Regions from separate parts of the Homo sapiens genome. Here regions 1, 2 and 4 are each linked to region 3. The links come from fine-mapping of genetic effects on gene expression. A gene starts in region 3. Each other region holds a variant in brackets. All regions are shown on one strand. Distances are from middle to middle. Region 1 overlaps WHRN (whirlin). Region 2 overlaps WHRN (whirlin). Region 3 holds the start of WHRN (whirlin). Region 4 has its middle 35 kb from the start of ATP6V1G1.

Region 1 (4,000 bases), 55 kb before region 3:
TACATTTCTGTTGTTTTAAGCCACCCAGTGTGTGGTCATTTGGTATAGCAGCCCTAGGACACTCACATAGAAAGAAGGGCCTAGTCCCCTCTCCCCCTTGAAACTGCCTGGACTTGTGACAGCTTTAAACAAGAAAGCCCAGCTGAGGGATACTCTGTGCCTTCTGAAACTGGGCCATCAAAAGAATACAGCCTCCACTCACCTCTCTCCCAGCACCTATCCCCTGGAAAGCCCCCCTAAGCCACCATTCTTAGAGGCAGCCCAAACTAGCACTGTGGAAAGATGACAGGGAGAGGTCCATGCAGGAAGCACTAGGGCCTCCAGCCCATAGCCAACATCAACTTCCAGGCACAGGAGGAAACAGGCTTCCAGATGATTCCAGCACCCAGATGTTGAGTGTTCCAGCTGCGGCTGCAGACATCATGGAGCAGAGACACATCACCCCTGCTGTGCCTTGTCACTTCCTCACCCACAGTACCTGGGAGCATAACTTGTGGTTACTATACATCCCTAAGTCCTGTGGTGGTTATGCGGCCACAAGAACCACATTTGCTGAATCATAACTGGCACTGGAAAAGGTCCCTTGGGAATCTGTATGCATGGTCAAGTGCCCAAAGCACTGCCCCATATAGTTACCTACCTCTCCCAAAGCCCTTCATGTTTCTATCCCACAGCAGAGGCTGAAGAAATGCTCACTGGTAATCATTTCCCTTATGAAAGAGGGGACCGTGCTGACCTCAGATTCAGTAAACCATATGTACCCACAAGCAGGCATTTAATTTGGCATGACCACATGTAAAGCCAGAAGGGCAACCAATGACATTTCCGGGGCCAGTCAGCTCTTCATGCCCCTACCCTATTCCAGGACCTTTGTTCAGCCACTTGGGAATGAGATGAGAAGGAAAGCCCACAGACATCCCCAGCTAGTAGCCTCTCTCTGGTGGACAGAATGGTTCACAGGGACCCTGAGCACACGAACAAATGATCTCACCTTTTCCTGTGGCCAAGCTGCAAGTGAGCTCTGCTCTAATGGGCGTGCCCAGAGAAATTAAGTCTTTTTGGCAGCAGCCTGCCTTGGCGCAATTACCACCCTACCAAGGGCCGCTGTAAAGACCAGGCCAGAGGACTAAGCATCTCGAATTTCTGCAATTGATTAAACACTCATTCAGAGAGGCCATTTCAAAAATCCAACTAAGAGAGTATCATAAGGAAGGACTGAGAAGGTGGCACAGCTGGGGGCGGGTGGGGAGCAGAGGCTACAGCAATCACTCAGCCTGTGGCAGGTTCTTGGGAAATAAATCACCTTCCGGCTCCTTGGGAAAGACGTTCATCATCAATGTCAATTCATCAGCTATCTGAGCATCGCAGATGTAACTGCAGATCAGTCTTGCCACAAGCCAATCGCTTAGACAATTACAGCTACCATTTCTTTTTGGTTGCTTATCATGTGCCAGGCACTGGGCTAGGGATTTTATATGCATTAGCTCATGTTGTCTTGACAATATAGTACCTAGGATATAGGTGGTACTATTATTATCATTATTATCAAAAACTGGAATCTACAGGAGCTTGGGAAGCACTGCTCCTCTATAGTCTCTACGAAGGAAGCAAGAGCCAACTCTGAGGCTTAGGACTTGTGGACCCGCCCAGGAGTGAGAGGTGGCTACTGCACCTCAGGGATAGGCACTCCCGAGGGCATGGCTCATTAGAAAAAACCCACTCCAGCAAAAGGGGCTGGTGGGGAGGCAAAGCCCAGTTATCTGAGCTGGACCTCAGCAAGGACAAGGAAATTGTCATCCTACCTTCTGCTGAAAAAGCCTGGGGATTTTTGAAGCCCCAAAGCAACCAGGTGCTGGAGAGGTTGCTGCTCTGCCACAAGTCCTCGAAAGCAGGGGCAGTGTGGGGCCAGGGCTGGAGTGCCAAAGAGGGACAGGCAGGATTAGCCTCGAGTTTATTCCATCCCAGAGGGACAATACAAGACTGTCCCCTAGCCTGGGAGGAAGGCCCCACTGTGAAACTGCCCTGGCTGGGTGTTAGAGGACAGAGCCAAGCCTGCAACCTTGGCCAGCCCCTTCCTGGTAAGTGGCCATGGGCAAATCACTTCCACCTTCTGAGCCTCAAGCAAGACTCATGCGGTTACCTTACAAGGTTATACTGAAAATCAGGAATAATTTTTAAAGCTAATTAAAAAAATACTTTTATCTGCATCAAGTGCTTGCTAGAGATTCTCTGGCTACATCTTCACCATGTCCCAAGAGGTATTATTACCCCAGCTTT[A/C]CAAATGAGGAAACCGAGTCTCAGGGTGATAAAGTGACAAGACAGGTTTTACACACCATGCAACACCACCAGGGAATGTCATCACCGCCCCGGCACACAGTAGGTGTCAGAAGTAGCTGCTATTGTTATTATTATTAGTTTCCCCCCCCGCAAAAAAATACTTTCTGCTGAGATACAGCTTTAGTCATACATTCTCAATTAAATAATTTTAAAAGTTGAGCTAGGCCCATGCTCTCATGTGGGAATGACAGACATTGAATCATCTGGGCCACGGGTCCCCCTTTTCTGCCCCATGGCAGACACAGCGCTAAGTGACTCTTAGCATTAGCTAACTATCCCTTCTTGCAGAGCCCGGCTGCAACCACACAGGTACAAACATGTGTACAGGCGCACTAATGAAATGGCATTGGCATGCAAGAGATCGGTGACTTGCTGCCCTTGGGAATGGAAAAAGCACTGGATTTGGGGTCAGAAAAACGTGGGCAAAGCCCATCCAAGGTAAAATAGAAAGTCCTTTGCCAGTCTGAGGCACTGTGACTTTGTGCTCAGCTGTCCCTGTTGGCATCAGCACAGAGGTAAGGCATGTGGCCTTAGGGAGGCCTGCCTTTGAATCACAGCTTCTCTGCCAACTAAAAATATGTTTTGGGGCAAGCTGCTTAATCTCATTGAGTCTCGGGTTCTTTATCAGTGAAATAGGCATGATGAAACTCAGGAGATCCTCCTGGGGCTGCCAAGAGGACGGAGCAAGATGATTTCAAGGAATCACCTGGACAGGGCTGGGCCTGCAGCAAATCATCAATAAATAGTTGCTTTTATGGCATTGTTATTATGGAGACATCAGAAATATCACTGTGGGGGTGTGTGCGCATGAACGCACACACCACACACACAGGAAAACCCCAAGTGAAGACCATTCGCTCCTCCCTAATTTTCACAAAGCAGTAAATTCAAGCTGCCTACAGGGGAAGGCCCTGCCCTGTGTCCCTCCCCCAGTCTGCCTGAGAACCACTTCACAAAGAGAGGACCCATCTAAGTTCTGTAAGAACCTCTGGGGTTCACCAGAGAAGGTATGAGGAGAGGGAAGAGATGAGAATGGGACTTCTGTGACTAAGTGCTAGACCCACCTGGGTTTGAATCCCAGCTCTTCTTCCTATTAACTGTGTGACCTTGGGCAAGTTACTTAACCTCTCTGGGCTTCAGCTGCCCATCTGTAAAATAGGGATAATACCAGAGCCTCCTTGCAGGGATGCTGGGAGCATTAAATGATTCACTGTAGGCACAGTACTCACTAAGCACCATGGTGGGACAGAGGGCGGACTCCCAAAATGCTGGCAATTGCTGTTGTTATTCCTGCATGTTAGAAATAACTAGAAGACTGCTCACCCTAATGACTTATTTCTGTTACTACTATTTCCTCAGCAACATAGGAAAGGTAAAGAATAAAAATTAAAATTAAAAAATGTATCATTACTGTTTCCTGTTATCACCACTACCCTCATGCTGCTGTATCTTCTGCCATTTTCACCATGCTTTTACTTAAACACATCCTGAATGGCCAGAAGAATCCTCCGGGTTCCAAATCTAAAAAGCAGAGTGTGCAGAAACATCGGGCAGGTGTCACCAACATGCTGACGGCAGAGAACCGGGCAGAAGTGGGGAGAGCTGGCTGGCCGGCTGCCAAGGGGCGTCAGCCTGAGTTTCCATCACGCAAATTCAGGGTTAT
Region 2 (4,000 bases), 78 kb before region 3:
ATGAAGATCAAAAGGTGACACATTACACTGTTGGCAACTATGCAGCCACCTGGCAACTGGATCTCAGTTTATGACTTTAAGACCCTCTCACCCAGATTTCTTCATGGGATCCAGCCTGGTGGCCTCTGGCCAAATACACCCCAAAGCATCTCTCTCTTTCCCTCTCCCTCCCTCTCTTTCATCTGCACAGATCTGGGATGAGGGCAGGGTTATGGTCCCCACTTTTTGGATGAAGCAACTAAGGTCTATAGAATGAGTTAAGTAATTTGGGGACAAATAAAGAATGAGACAGTTGGATGGTGTATTTCAGCTTTCCATGGGGAAACTGAGGCCAAGAGAGGAGAGGGATGTGCCCAGGTCATGTCCTGCCAATGGAGGGCCCTGGTGTGGGGACTGCAGGCTGAGAGGAGAGCCAGGGCGGTGGAGGGATGGGAGGCAGCTATCACTGGCTTTCAGAAATGGCCCTGGGGTCTGGAGATTGGAGCGAGCAGAGTGGCCAGACCCTGCCGAGTTCGCCATGGTCTCCCTGATCCGGGAACTGGCGATCCACTTGGTCTCGTCCACAGTGGTGCGGGCATGGGGCAGCCTCCCGACGTCCTTCACTGTCAGGATGAGGTGCCGAGATGACTTAAGCAGCCTGACAGCCTCGTCGTGTAGGATGTTGAGAAAGCTCCGCCCATTCACTTCTAGAATCTGGTCCCCAACCTGCCAAGATCACCACACAATACAGTCACCTGGGCTGTTTGCAGGATTCACACTAGGGACTTCACAGCCCAGATCCCAATTCTCCTCTGGGCCAGCCTGTCAAGGAGGTCATCCAGGATCAGAGAGGATGTGAGGATGCCTGAGGGTCACACAGCAAGTCAATAGCAGTGCTGGCCTTCTGATCCTGACCCAGAGTCCATGCTCTTGTCATCAAAAGGGGGCATGTCCCCATGACTCAGCAATGGCTTTGAGGGGTGGGTCTACGATGACATTCCAAGGGTCCCCTTATCTAGAAACAACAGTCATCTCAGGGCCAAGGTGGGCGTGAAGCTGGGGTAGGATGAGGCAAGCCATGAAGGTGGACATCCGTAATTTTCCTCCTACACTTGTACTTTGTTGAGGTTTTTACCTCAACCATGCATTCTTATATTACCTTAAAATGTAAACAAAACTTTAATCTACTAAAAGAAACAGCAATAAATGAGAAAATTAGTTTTCCGTTAAAGCAGTACATATGGCTTAGATTCTTACAAGGAGGCAGCTTTATTTTGTAATTAAAAAAATATTTCTGGCAGGTACAGTGGCTCATGCCTGTAATCCCAGAGCTTTGGAGGAATAAGGTGGGAGGACTACTTAAGCCCAGTAGTTGCAGACCAGCCTGGGCAATAGTGAGATTCCATTTCTAAAAATAATAATAGCCGGGCACAGTCGTGTGTGCCTATAGTCCTTAGCTACTTGGGAGTCCGAGGCAGGAGGATTGCTTGAGCCCAAGAGTTCGAGGCTGCTGTGAACTGTGATTGCACCACCATACTCCAGCCTGGACAACTGAGCAAGATCCTCTCTTTTTACAAAAATACTTTTAATGAAGGAATGTAAAAACAGAGGCAAAAAATAAAACTAGCCTTCCAATAAAAACAAATATGTGACAGAAATAGAAGGGGTTGAAAGGGAAGATGCTGCAGGGTATGATGGGACCGCACCTTTAAACTCGGGGTTCCTTTCACAAATGGGTCAACTGAGGTCCAAGGACGGGAAAGGGCTGCCCAGGGTCATGTGCCACTGAGGCCTTGAAGGGCAGCCTCACAATGCTGGTTATTCTTGGCTGTTTTTCCTTTTCCCCAGTTTCCCAGCCTGCTGAGAGCACATGATCAACTCCTGTAGGTTTATCCAGCATTTTTCAAAGATTTGGAAAAGGTAAGACAAATGGGAGCTTGGGAGAAAAGAAGATGGGATTACCAGGCTGAGAACCAAAACCCTGCTCCCCAGTTCCCCGGCTTTTCTTGAATGCCTCACCCCAGTTGGGAGTTTCCAGTATAGAAAGTGGTTACAAAGACAGACTTTACCTCTCTCCTCTGCACCGGCTTT[G/GAC]ACACTCAGGGGAGGCTTGCTGCCTCTGCCTCCATGACTCTAACAGAGTGGGGTCTGTGCTGCATTTCAAGCATTCACCACCATTTACTGCAATGCCTACTGTGTGCTGGGATGTTGTGCTGAGCAGGATAATCTGCTCCTGTTCCATTTAGCTCACGATCAAGGGTGAGCTCAGCTTTGCGTGATGACTGAGTTTCCCCATCAGCCTCTCCACACTGTATCCCCAGGGCCCAGCACACAGTAGGAATTAAAAAAATCATCAGATGAGGCCAGGCATCGTGGCTCATGCCTGTAATCCCAGCACTTTGGGAGGCTGAGGTGGGCAGATCACTTGGGGTCAGGAGTTCAAGACCAGCCTGGCCAACATGGCAAAATGCTGTCTCTACTAAAAGTACAAAAATTAGCCCGGCGAGGTGGTGCGCCTGTAGTCCCAGCTACTCGGGAGGCTGAGGCAGGAGGATTGCTTGAACCCTGGAGGCAGAGATTGCAGTGAGCCGACATCGTGCCACTGCACTCCAGCCTGGCTGGGTGACAGAGCAAGACTCTGTATTAAAAAATAAAATCAGATTAATAAAAAGACACGCATTTCCATCTATTCCAACTCCAGGACCATCTCTGCTGCAGCTCAGAGATGCACATTACACCAGCCTTCTTTGTCCCTTTATATGTTTTCTCCTTAATATCACCAACATCCTATAAAGTAAGTATCATAGCTCTCCATTTCACTAGAGAGGAAACTGAGGCTCAGAAAGGTTAAGCACATAGTTTGTGGTCACAGTGCTAGTGAAAAGGAGTGCTGATTTGCACATCCAGGTCAGGCCAGCACCAAGGCCCCTCTGCTTTCTACTGCTGGGCTGCTGCCCGGAGCGCTGTTTGGGGACCACGTGATATCGCTTCAAATCCAGCGTGTCCAAAGCTACTGTGCTGCCATCCTTTCCCTGACCCTGCCTGCAGCAGCCAGATCTGAAAACTTCATCTCATCATCAACTCTGCCTTTACCCCCCTGAGCAGATCCTTCAGCAAATCCCGTCCTCCACCCCCATCAGCCCCCTGACCTCGGTTCCTACCTGCTCCCTCCCACGTGAGCGAGCTAGCATCCTCATCACTGTGCATTTACATCTAAACTGGCCAGACATAGTACCAGATTAATTTCTTTTTTTTTTTTTCTTGGAGACTGAGTCTCCCTCTGTTGCCCAGGCTAGAGTGTAGTGGCGCAATCTCGGCTCACTGCAACCTCCACCTCCTGGGTTCAAGCAATTCTCATGCCTCAGCTTCCTGAGTAGCTGGGACTACAGGTGCACACCACCACGCCCAGCTAACTTTTTGTATTTTAGTAGAGGTGGGGTTTTGCCATGTTGCCTAGACTGGTCTCAAACTCCTGAGCTCAGGCGATCCACGCGGCTTGGCCTCCCAAAGTGCTGGGATTACAGGCGTGAGCCACCGCGCCCCGCCAGTGTCAGATTAATTTCATCAACTTTTTGCTTTGATGACATCTCTCCCTGCTTAAACACCTCCCATGACCCCTCATAATCTAGGAGGAAGCAAAGCACTATGGCTAATGGTTTCAAAGACAATCAGATCTGGGTTCAAATGCTAACTCTATCACTTCCGTGCCACATGGCCCCACAAAACCCACAATAGCTTTTGTGCCTCACTTTCGTTGGGAGTAAAAAGGGAGTCCTAGCCCAGGATTGTCCTTCTCCAAATACCTAAAGTCAGCAGCATCTCAATGCCACATGCTTTCACCATGCCCCCAGCAATATCTGCAATTCTCTTTCTCCCTTTTTATGTCTCTGAGCTCCCCGGTTGAGAAGCCAGGGCCCCTGAGAACTTCGGCAGCCCTGGCTGGTCTCCCTGTAAAGAGCGTGAGACAAGACCCAACACCTGGCTCGGGGCTTGGTACTCAGCAAGCACTCAATCAGTGCTTATG
Region 3 (4,330 bases):
GGCGGGGAGTGGGGGTTTACAGAACAGTCCAACCCCCTGAGAAGCATTTCTCTGCAGAAGCAGAGCATGTGTCCCTTTTCCCCCAAACTCTTCACTTCTTGTACGCAAAGGAGGTCGGGGGAGGGGGGAAGGGGGAAAAATGCCTGCAAAGGATCCATGAATCCACCCTGGACCCAACACTATCCATCATACTCCAACTGGTTTTCAGTAGCCCTGGGCTGTAGATCAGTAAGCACACACACTCCTTTAAAAAGCATGATTAAATCCCTGGAAGCCTGTTGTCATGAGGTTATATTTCTCAATTAACAAATGGCAGAAAGGACAAACACTCTCAGGGGCTAGGGAATTTATTTTTTACATTCAGGCAGGAGTCTCATTTCCAAAAAGGTTAGGGACCGCTTATTTGGTCCAGTGGCCCCATTTTCCAAGTGGAGAACAAGAGGTCCTGAGAGGGCAAGTGACTTGCTTCAGGATACACAACCTGGTCCAAAAACAGCAGCGTCAAGCCAGTGCACTGTGGATCACACAAACGGCCTCCTCAGGCCACTTAAGAGCTAACAAAACTGTTTCAGGGAAAAACAAAAAACAAAAAACCACAGAATGGCAGTAGCAAAGGCCACCTAATTATGCCAAGCAGAGATTTTATCTCTTTTAATGCTCATAAGAATCCACAGCCCTATTCACACATTGTAACCACACATTTGCTCAAGTATTTGTTACTATCACCTGCACTAGCTTTTAAGCCTCACAAAGGCAAGGGCCATGTCTGTGCAGAACTACGTTCCCAGTGCCTGAGAGCTATTTGCTCTGTAAGCTATACATTCCTGTTTTAAAGTATTAAAAAAAAAAAAAAAGCCCAGAAAGGCCAAGTGATTCATCTAAGGACACACAGCATGGAGTTACTGAAAAAGCTGTGCCACTCTGTCCATACTCTGCCCCAGACTCTCTCCAAACCACAGCCTTACCTTGACGGCCTCCGCGTGGGTCACCCGGGCCAGGGATTTGTCGTTGACGCGCAGAATCTGGTCCCCGACCCGCAGTCCTTCCTTCTCAGCTAGAGAGCCTGGTTCCACCAGAGACACGTAGATGCCCACGCCGTGCTCCGAGCCCCCACGGATGCTGAAGCCCAAGCCCTCGTGGGCCTTGGCACGCCGCAAACTCACCAGGCGCACCTCCCCTGGCCCCGCGCTGTCGGGGCCGCCCCAGGCGGGCTGCCTGTAGGGGGTGGTGGCGGGCAGGTAGAGGCCCTCGGCCGTGTATTGGTCGAAGAGCAGCTGGTCGGAGCGCGGGATGACCAGACGAAGCATGGGCAGCAGGCGCCGCTTGACCGGACTGTCCAGCAGCACGCGCAGGGTGCGCACCAGGTCGAAGACGTTGCGGCGCGCGTGGTAAGCGTTCAGGCAGTGGGTGAACTGCTCCCGCTCCGCCTCGCTCAGCAGCGCGGTCAGCGCTTGGTGCAGCTGGCGCACGTTGGCAGACAGTAACCGCAGCCCCGCGCCCCCGCCGCCGCCCGCCCCGGCCGCCGAGCCCAGCGAGCCGGTGGAGGACGAGCTCACCGACAGGCCGTCCAGCGGCGCGTTCATCTCCACGCCGAGGCCCGGCCGGGCTCTGAGCGCGCGGGGTGTGGGCGGTGCCGCTGTCCTCGCGGGTACTGGCGCGACAGCTGGATCCCCGGGAGCGCGGAGACGACGGCTGGAGCCTGGGTTTGGGGAGCACGGGTACAGTGGCTGGATCCTAGGGGGTCGCGGAGACCGCTGCTAGAGTCCCGGAGGCGCGAAGACGGCGGGGGTCGCGAACCTGGAATCCGGGGGACGCGGAGACGTCGGCGGGTTCCTGAGAGACACAAGAGTTGGCTGCTGGAGCCCGGAGGTGGCGGAGACTGCTGCTGGAGTCCGGGGGGCGCGGGGTCAGCAGCTACATTCTGGAGGGCACGGAGACGACGGGTGGCTGGAGTTTGGGGGCGCCGCAAAGCTGACCTGACTGCCCCGTCACACCATGCCCGGGGCTCCCCCAGCCGGGCGCCCGTTCCTCTAGGGCTGGGGGACCCCAAAGTCAGAAGTTGGGGCGGAGGGCGCTCTAGTCCCAGAGCACTCCGGGGAGTGGCAGCCGGTGAAGCGGCGCGGGCGTCCGACAAGGGGTGCGGGGCATGTCCGGGGCAGCCCCGGGATGCAGCCGCCCGGGGAGCCTCCGCGCCTCTGCGCCGCCCGGCCGCAAGCCCGGACTTTGCGAACTGTTGAGCCACCCGGGCCGAGTCTTCCAGCGAGTTCCGACGCCGTCTCGTTGCCAGCCCGGCCCGGGCCCCGCCCCCTCGTCCCTCCTCCTGCCCGCCCCCTCCCCACGGGCTCCTCAGGAAATGACGTCCCGCCCGGTGCGCCTGGCCGTTGCCTGGAGACGGGGTGAAACAGTCCAGCCCCAGGGAAGAAAGGGGTGAACGCGGCGGTAGGGGTGGGAGGAGCCCCCGCGTCCCCTACCCCGCCGGCAGAGCCGGGAGCGGGGCTCAGAAACAGCGCTCTTCGGCGGTCGCAGCGAGTGCCGACACCAGGATCGCTTTGGAGTAATTAGCCGGCTAGCTAATTCACAATTCGGGGGGAAATCGTCAAGTTTTTTGTTTGTTTGATTTTTGCTTCCAAAATACTGGGCACTTCAGTCTCGGTTTTCTTCCTTACAATGTGGCGCTCCCCTCCTGCACGCGCCCTGACATGACAAATTCCAGGGTTTATGTGGACGGTCGTTGGCCACCTACTGTGTGCGAGAGACGAATACAAGCATAGACTGCTGTCTGCCGGAGTCAACTCCGTGGCAGGGATGGATCAGGCTGGACCCCTTCCCAGTCTCCATTGCAAGGGAAAAGCCACTTTCAGAAATATTATATAAAGTGTACACCCCACGCTCGCGCACACACGTACAAATGAGCGCATATAAAACTGGTGAAATCTGAGTAAGGTGGGTGGATTTTATCAATGTCAATGTCCTGGTTGCCATCGTGTCAACATCGGGGGAAACTGGGTGAAGGGTACATGGCATGTCTATGTATTATTTCTTAGAACTGCATTTGGATCTACAATCTCAAAATAGAAATTAAAAATATACATATTTGAAGTGGCTTGGAGAAAAATCTCTTCTATGCTCTCCCATCCCTAGGCAAAATGGGAAGATACACCCAGGTGTGCCCTGGAGTCGGTCGTCACCCACCCAATCCCCCAAATAAGATTTAAGTAAAATCCTGTGCTTTTATTCTAATGGGGAGCTTCATAGTGCTACACACACACACACACACATACACACACACACCCTACCTCACACACATCCCTTCCAACCTGAGCTGCCTCTCCTAAGCTACTCTTCTATGTATTTTTCGTAAAAGTCTTCCAGAATTTCCATTGCAGAGCCAGCTGACATCTATCCAGGGTAGGGCAAGATGGAGGATTACCTGGAGGATTTGGTTTGTGGTGGACCCAGAAGGATAGATCATTCATTTATTTATTTATTTATTTATTTATTTATTTATTTATTTATTTGGTCGCTTTTCATTCAACGTTTTTGAAGCATCTGCTCTGTGCTGGGTCATGTGCTGGGTGCTGGAGACCCAGGGGAGAAAGATCAAATAAATAGAGTTAAAAACCAGTGTGATACCTGTTGTAATGGCGAGGGAGCCCAGGTTTAGGAGAGGAGAATATGGTAAGGACTTTACTGAAGAGGCGACACCTGAATGAAGAACCTGTAAGGAAAACGGACTTTCTCCTCTAGACAATGGGGAAGAGTGGAAAGGTTTTCAACACTGCTGACTTAATGCATTGAGGCTAGGAATGGAAGCTGTGTTTTCCCTAAAGATCTTCAATTCTTTACTTCCCTAAAACAGACATAGGTTAAATTAATGCCCAATAAACATATTTAACAGTGTGTCTGAGGAAGATTTTTTAAAAAATAGCCAATTAGGCTACCTTTGGCCATCTGTCTTAAAGCTCTAATCTTAGCAGTTAATGGTGTCTATCCTTATTCCTCCTTTGTAACTGTTGTTGAAGCCTTTCATGCAACTAGACCAAGATGTTTAAGGAAAAAAAATCAATCTTCTCCACCCCAAAAATGTATTAATGACATACCTCAAAATGCCACCAAGCAGGGCTTAATTGTATGCAGTTCAGGTTTCCTGCTAATGTGTTTCATGCTCAGCTCTCACTTAGTTTGTTTTAATTATAATTACTGTGATTGGTTTGATAAATGCATCCCAGGAGCTAAGATCCCCAGTCCCAACATTTTATTTCTGTGCAAAGGATGTTTTCAAGAAGGTGTTTTGCTTTAGGCAGCAGAAACCAGGCTGCATGCAGTCTTA
Region 4 (4,332 bases), 47 kb after region 3:
AAAGGAGTGGAGCCAAGTCTGATAATGAATTTGTGTGCACTGTGTGAGCCGTTCTGCAGCTATTCAAAATCCATTCAATGTTTTTCTCTAGCGATTGTAAGTACACTGTTCTTGGTATTGCCTCTGTCACCAGCTAAATGATGGAGATATTTCCACTCAGGATCTCGATAGACTTGTGGCTCTGGCAACAGATGTGTGTGAACTGATGCACTTGGAACACCTGGAAGCAGGAGGTCGGCTGCTCTTGGAGGACCTGCTGAAGTCTGGACCCCATTGTTCTTCTTTTCTTTTCTGTTCTTTTCCTTTCTTTTGAGGTGGGGGCTGCCTCCTGGAATGGGCATCTCCACTGTGGCCAGGGGGCAACTGGGAAAGAGGTGGTCAGCAGCACCTTGACCTTGAGTGGGCCCAGATCTTAGATCTCCAGCCCCTGCTACTTTATTTCTCCTTCTCCCTCTTCTACAGAGATGGGGTCTCACTATGTTGTCCAGGCTAGAGTGCAGTGGCTATTCACAGGCACAATCTCTGCTGCTTTAGAATGTCCTGGAGAGCTTTCTGAAAGTCCAAGTTCCAGTCTCTATCCCTGCAAGACTCTGAATCAGTAGGTCTGGGGAAAGCAATTCTGATTTTACAAAGCTCCACATTTCTTTTTAAAAAAATATCGATGGGGTCTCACTATGTTGCCCAGGCTGGTCTCAAACTCCTAGGCTCAAGCAATCCTCCTGCCTCAGCCTCCCAAAGTGCTGGGACTACAGGTGTGAGCCTGGCCAAAGCTCTTCACTTCTAAAGGGCAGCCATGCTGCAGAATCCCATCAGCATGAAATGTCCAGAGGCCAGTGTCCTTCCTTTTCCAAGGGGCCCTCTCGTTTGTCCCCCAAGGCACCTCTCCTCCTAGTCTCTAAGGCCCCTCACTGGGACCCTTCCCCTCCATGGCTTGCCTAGGGTTACCTTTGTGGAGTCAGAGGTTGTTAGGGAGGAATATGTAGAACCACTGACCTAGTGCAACCCCTTAACTTTCTATTAAGGAAACCAACGGAGGACCAGGGAGGCCAAATGAGTTTCCCAAGATCACATAACAAATCCAGGGCTTACCGACCAGGGTGCACACCTTGGGAGCTGGAAAACTGTCCCGGGCCTGCTCTCACACAACAATGTGTGGGTTGTTTTTTGTTTGTTTGTTTGTTTTTGTATTTTTTAAATTTCATTAATTATTATTATTATTTTTTTTTTTTGAGACAGGGTCTTGCTTTGTTGCCTGGGCTAGAGTGCAGTGGTCCAACCACACAGCTCACAGCAGCCTCAGCCTTCCAGGCTCAAGCAATCCCTCCCCCTTCAGCCTCCCAAGTAGCTGGGATAATGGGCACAGGCCACCAAGTCCGGCTAATTAAAAAAAAAAAATTTTTTTTTGTAGAGATGGGGCAGAGGAGGGGGTCTCCCTGTGTTTCCCAGGCTGGTCTCAAACTCCTGGCCTCAAGCGATCCTCCCACCTTGGCCTCCCAAAGTACTGGGATTACAGGCGTAAGCCACTGCACCCAGCCTCACACACTCTGAATTATGTGGGGTGGGGTCCTAACTAACTCACTGAGCCTCCCAAGCCAAACTCAACCGCAGCTATTCTCCATCCCAAAAGTGGGAAGGAGCTGCCTATTGAGGGAGAGGTGGGCCTTCTTCCCATTCTCCATCTTCACCTACAAGCTATCCACTATGCAGGGGCTGCTTGGAGTTTTAACACTGATCCAGTAGCTCACCTGGCTCTT[G/A]CCTAAGTAAATTACCTTTCTCCCTTGGGGTTGGGGAGGTGTGGGTCTGGGTGGTGGGCACTGGCTTTACCTCCAGCTCAGCTCCTTCTCTTTGGTCCCGCCTCCCAGGGTTTTATGTGTCCATATAACCACTGACTCAGGGTCAGCTTTTTCCAGTCTAGTGCGTCAGCACAAGTGAGTGATAGAGCCTGAAGGCCATTACTCAGGGGAGGATGGTGGTGAGTCATCACGAGAGACTCCTTCCCTAGTCTGGCCACTCTGCTCCAAGCTGTGCTGGGAGACAGAGAATAATAACACCTTTTGGACTGGCCTTTTAAAAATAGAAACAATGGAGTCTGTGGCTTTAGGAGGAGAGGTCCTGGGAGTCAGAAGCTCAGTCCTGCTAGCTTGTCATTCCTTGGAGGATGCTGGCTACTACTTTGCCCACCGGTAATTGAGGGTGTTGCCCTTGGCCATTTGGGGTGGGCTTTCTGAGTCTTTTAGAGGTTGCAGAATCTTACATGTGCTATAAACCAAGGACACACCCTACCCAAAATTTATATACACATTCATGCAAAATGTGTCATGCAATCTCAGGGTTTCATGGAACCCGCTGACACCCAGTCATGGGCTCCTGGCAATGAATTCCTGATCTCTGGGCTCTATTTGTCTAATAATTCTATGAAATATGTTTCTTCCAAATTCTATACTCCCCACACCCTCCATAAAATCATTTTTTAAAACATTTTTTTGTCTTCATTTATTTAAGAAACATTTATTGAGTGCTACCCACTCCTGTGGAAAAGTCCAGTATTGCTGGGAGAGAGAAAAGAGGAAAGGCCTCCACCTGGGGTGTCTGCAAGAAGGGCACGGACATTGGAGGTGCAGATGCACTGAAGAACTGATGGGCAAGCAAGATAGATGGTCAAGGTTGGCACTCAGAGGGGTGACCGTTACCCGCCCCTCCACCCCTTTCCCCGGCTTGTTGTAAGGGCAAGATCCTTCCCTCAACTCCAGAAATGAGTCATCATGTGTCTATGCCAGCCCTGGCAATCCCATTCCCCTTTTTGAGTGTTTCCAACCCCAGTTTTGGACAAAGAGACCTAAGGGAAGTCAGTGTGCGACCCTCAATTCCTAGAAAAAAGACAGAGCCTCAGAAAGAAAAGGCTTTTGGGCTGGATTACAGGTGGCTCACACCTTTAATCCCAGCACTTTGGGAGGCCAAGGCAGGTGGATCACTTGAAGTCAGGAGTTCGAGGCTAGCCTGGCCAATGTGGTGAAACCCCATCTCTATTAAAAAAAAAAAAAAAAAAGAAAGAAGAAAAAGAAGAAAGAAAAGACTTTTGGACCATGCCTGTTCTTTCTGCTTTGGAAGGTTGGTAGCAGAGTTTATGCCTAATTGCTATCTTGTGACTTTGAGATGACAAGTGTGAACATGAAAAACTAACAGCTTAGGCGGAGCCAAAAGATAGGAAGAAACTGGGCTGTTGATCCCAGTGCTCATCACCTCTGAGCGGCCCTGCATCCTCTGGCTCCTAGTCTTCTAGGAGACATAATAAGGTCTATTTCATTTAAGCCACTATTGGATGGGTTTTGTAACTTTTAGCCAAAACCATTGGTCACTGATTCAGGTGAACAGTCCCAGAAGTACGGGGTATGCACAAAGGACTGATGGATTTCTAAGCAACAGGACCATTGTGGTGACACGTCAATCAAGTCACCCACCTGATAGTATTCCCTTCTCAGAGCATGCGTATTCTCACAAGGCTTACTGAGAAAAAATGAAATTGGTCCACACCTTTCCCAAAAAATATTAGAGGTCATTGGCCAGTGGGTAGTACGGTGTTCATCCAGGGATACCCCTTTGTCTTTTCCCTAAGGCCAAGACAGACATAGGGCTCAAACTGGGGTGTCTGCAAGAAAGGACACTGGTAGTCTGTTCCACCGTTGGACATCTGTTTAGCCAGCTGATTTGCAAAACTTCTCATCTACTACTTGAGCTGGGGAAAATACTTACGAAATGGCATGGCGGAGGCTGATCAGGTAGAGAGGGTGCCAGAAAGGTCACCTTGAATTCTTACTCCCTAGGAATTAAAAAAGATGAACTCCACACCTTCACATAAAATACACTGTGAATGGTGCCTGAGGAGGTGGGCAAACATGGTGGTCCTGTTGCACTTCAAGGGAAGAGCTGGGAAGTCCATGGCCGAGTATCACCACCTCTAATGTTGAAGGGGATGGTAATACTCAGTCTGGCATCTGTTACTAAGATCTGTCCCCAGACCATTTGTCTTCTAGAGGGGGTTACAATTAAAACTTGATGGACTGTCTCTGATTCCCATGACACCAACTAGGTGTACAACAATCCGATCCTATTCTGACATCGACTAACCAGAATTAGTGTCAGACTCCATAGGTTTAAGGGCTCAGTGCCACAAGACAGCCCTCACTTGGGACGCCAGCCATAAGTCCTGGGTTTCTGGGCTACCTGCACTTTTGTCCAATTTGGCTACAAATTCAGAAATCCCCATGGCCCATGCCTGCTTCAGGTACTATAATTTGCTAGAATGACTCACAGAACTCAGGAAAATACTATACC

The links. PIP is the estimated chance that this variant, and not a neighbour inherited with it, causes the effect. A credible set is the group of variants that fine-mapping cannot tell apart.
Region 1: its variant is the best candidate, but not a certain one, in a credible set for the expression of WHRN in left ventricle (GTEx, PIP 0.87).
Region 2: its variant is the best candidate, but not a certain one, in a credible set for the expression of WHRN in stomach (GTEx, PIP 0.79).
Region 4: its variant is the best candidate, but not a certain one, in a credible set for the expression of WHRN in atrial appendage (GTEx, PIP 0.87).

What each region holds. Positions count from the first base shown.
Region 1 is chr9:114,448,409-114,452,408 of GRCh38, forward strand. All of the region lies in intron 3 of WHRN (whirlin), which reads right to left. Among named protein-coding and RNA genes, the nearest start is that of WHRN, 55 kb to the right of the region's middle. The variant A/C (reference allele first, on the strand shown) is at 2,278.
Region 2 is chr9:114,425,709-114,429,708 of GRCh38, forward strand. WHRN (whirlin) reads right to left here. Exons shown (of 12, transcript NM_015404.4): 4 at 503-705. Among named protein-coding and RNA genes, the nearest start is that of AKNA, 40 kb to the left of the region's middle. The variant G/GAC (reference allele first, on the strand shown) is at 2,071.
Region 3 is chr9:114,503,219-114,507,548 of GRCh38, forward strand. It overlaps WHRN (whirlin), which reads right to left and starts at 2,255. Exons shown (of 12, transcript NM_015404.4): 1 at 966-2,255. The coding sequence starts at 1,583. RefSeq lists enhancers at 744-1,634, 1,635-2,525 and a silencer at 2,050-2,349.
Region 4 is chr9:114,550,181-114,554,512 of GRCh38, forward strand. No RefSeq gene overlaps it. Among named protein-coding and RNA genes, the nearest start is that of ATP6V1G1, 35 kb to the right of the region's middle. The variant G/A (reference allele first, on the strand shown) is at 1,755.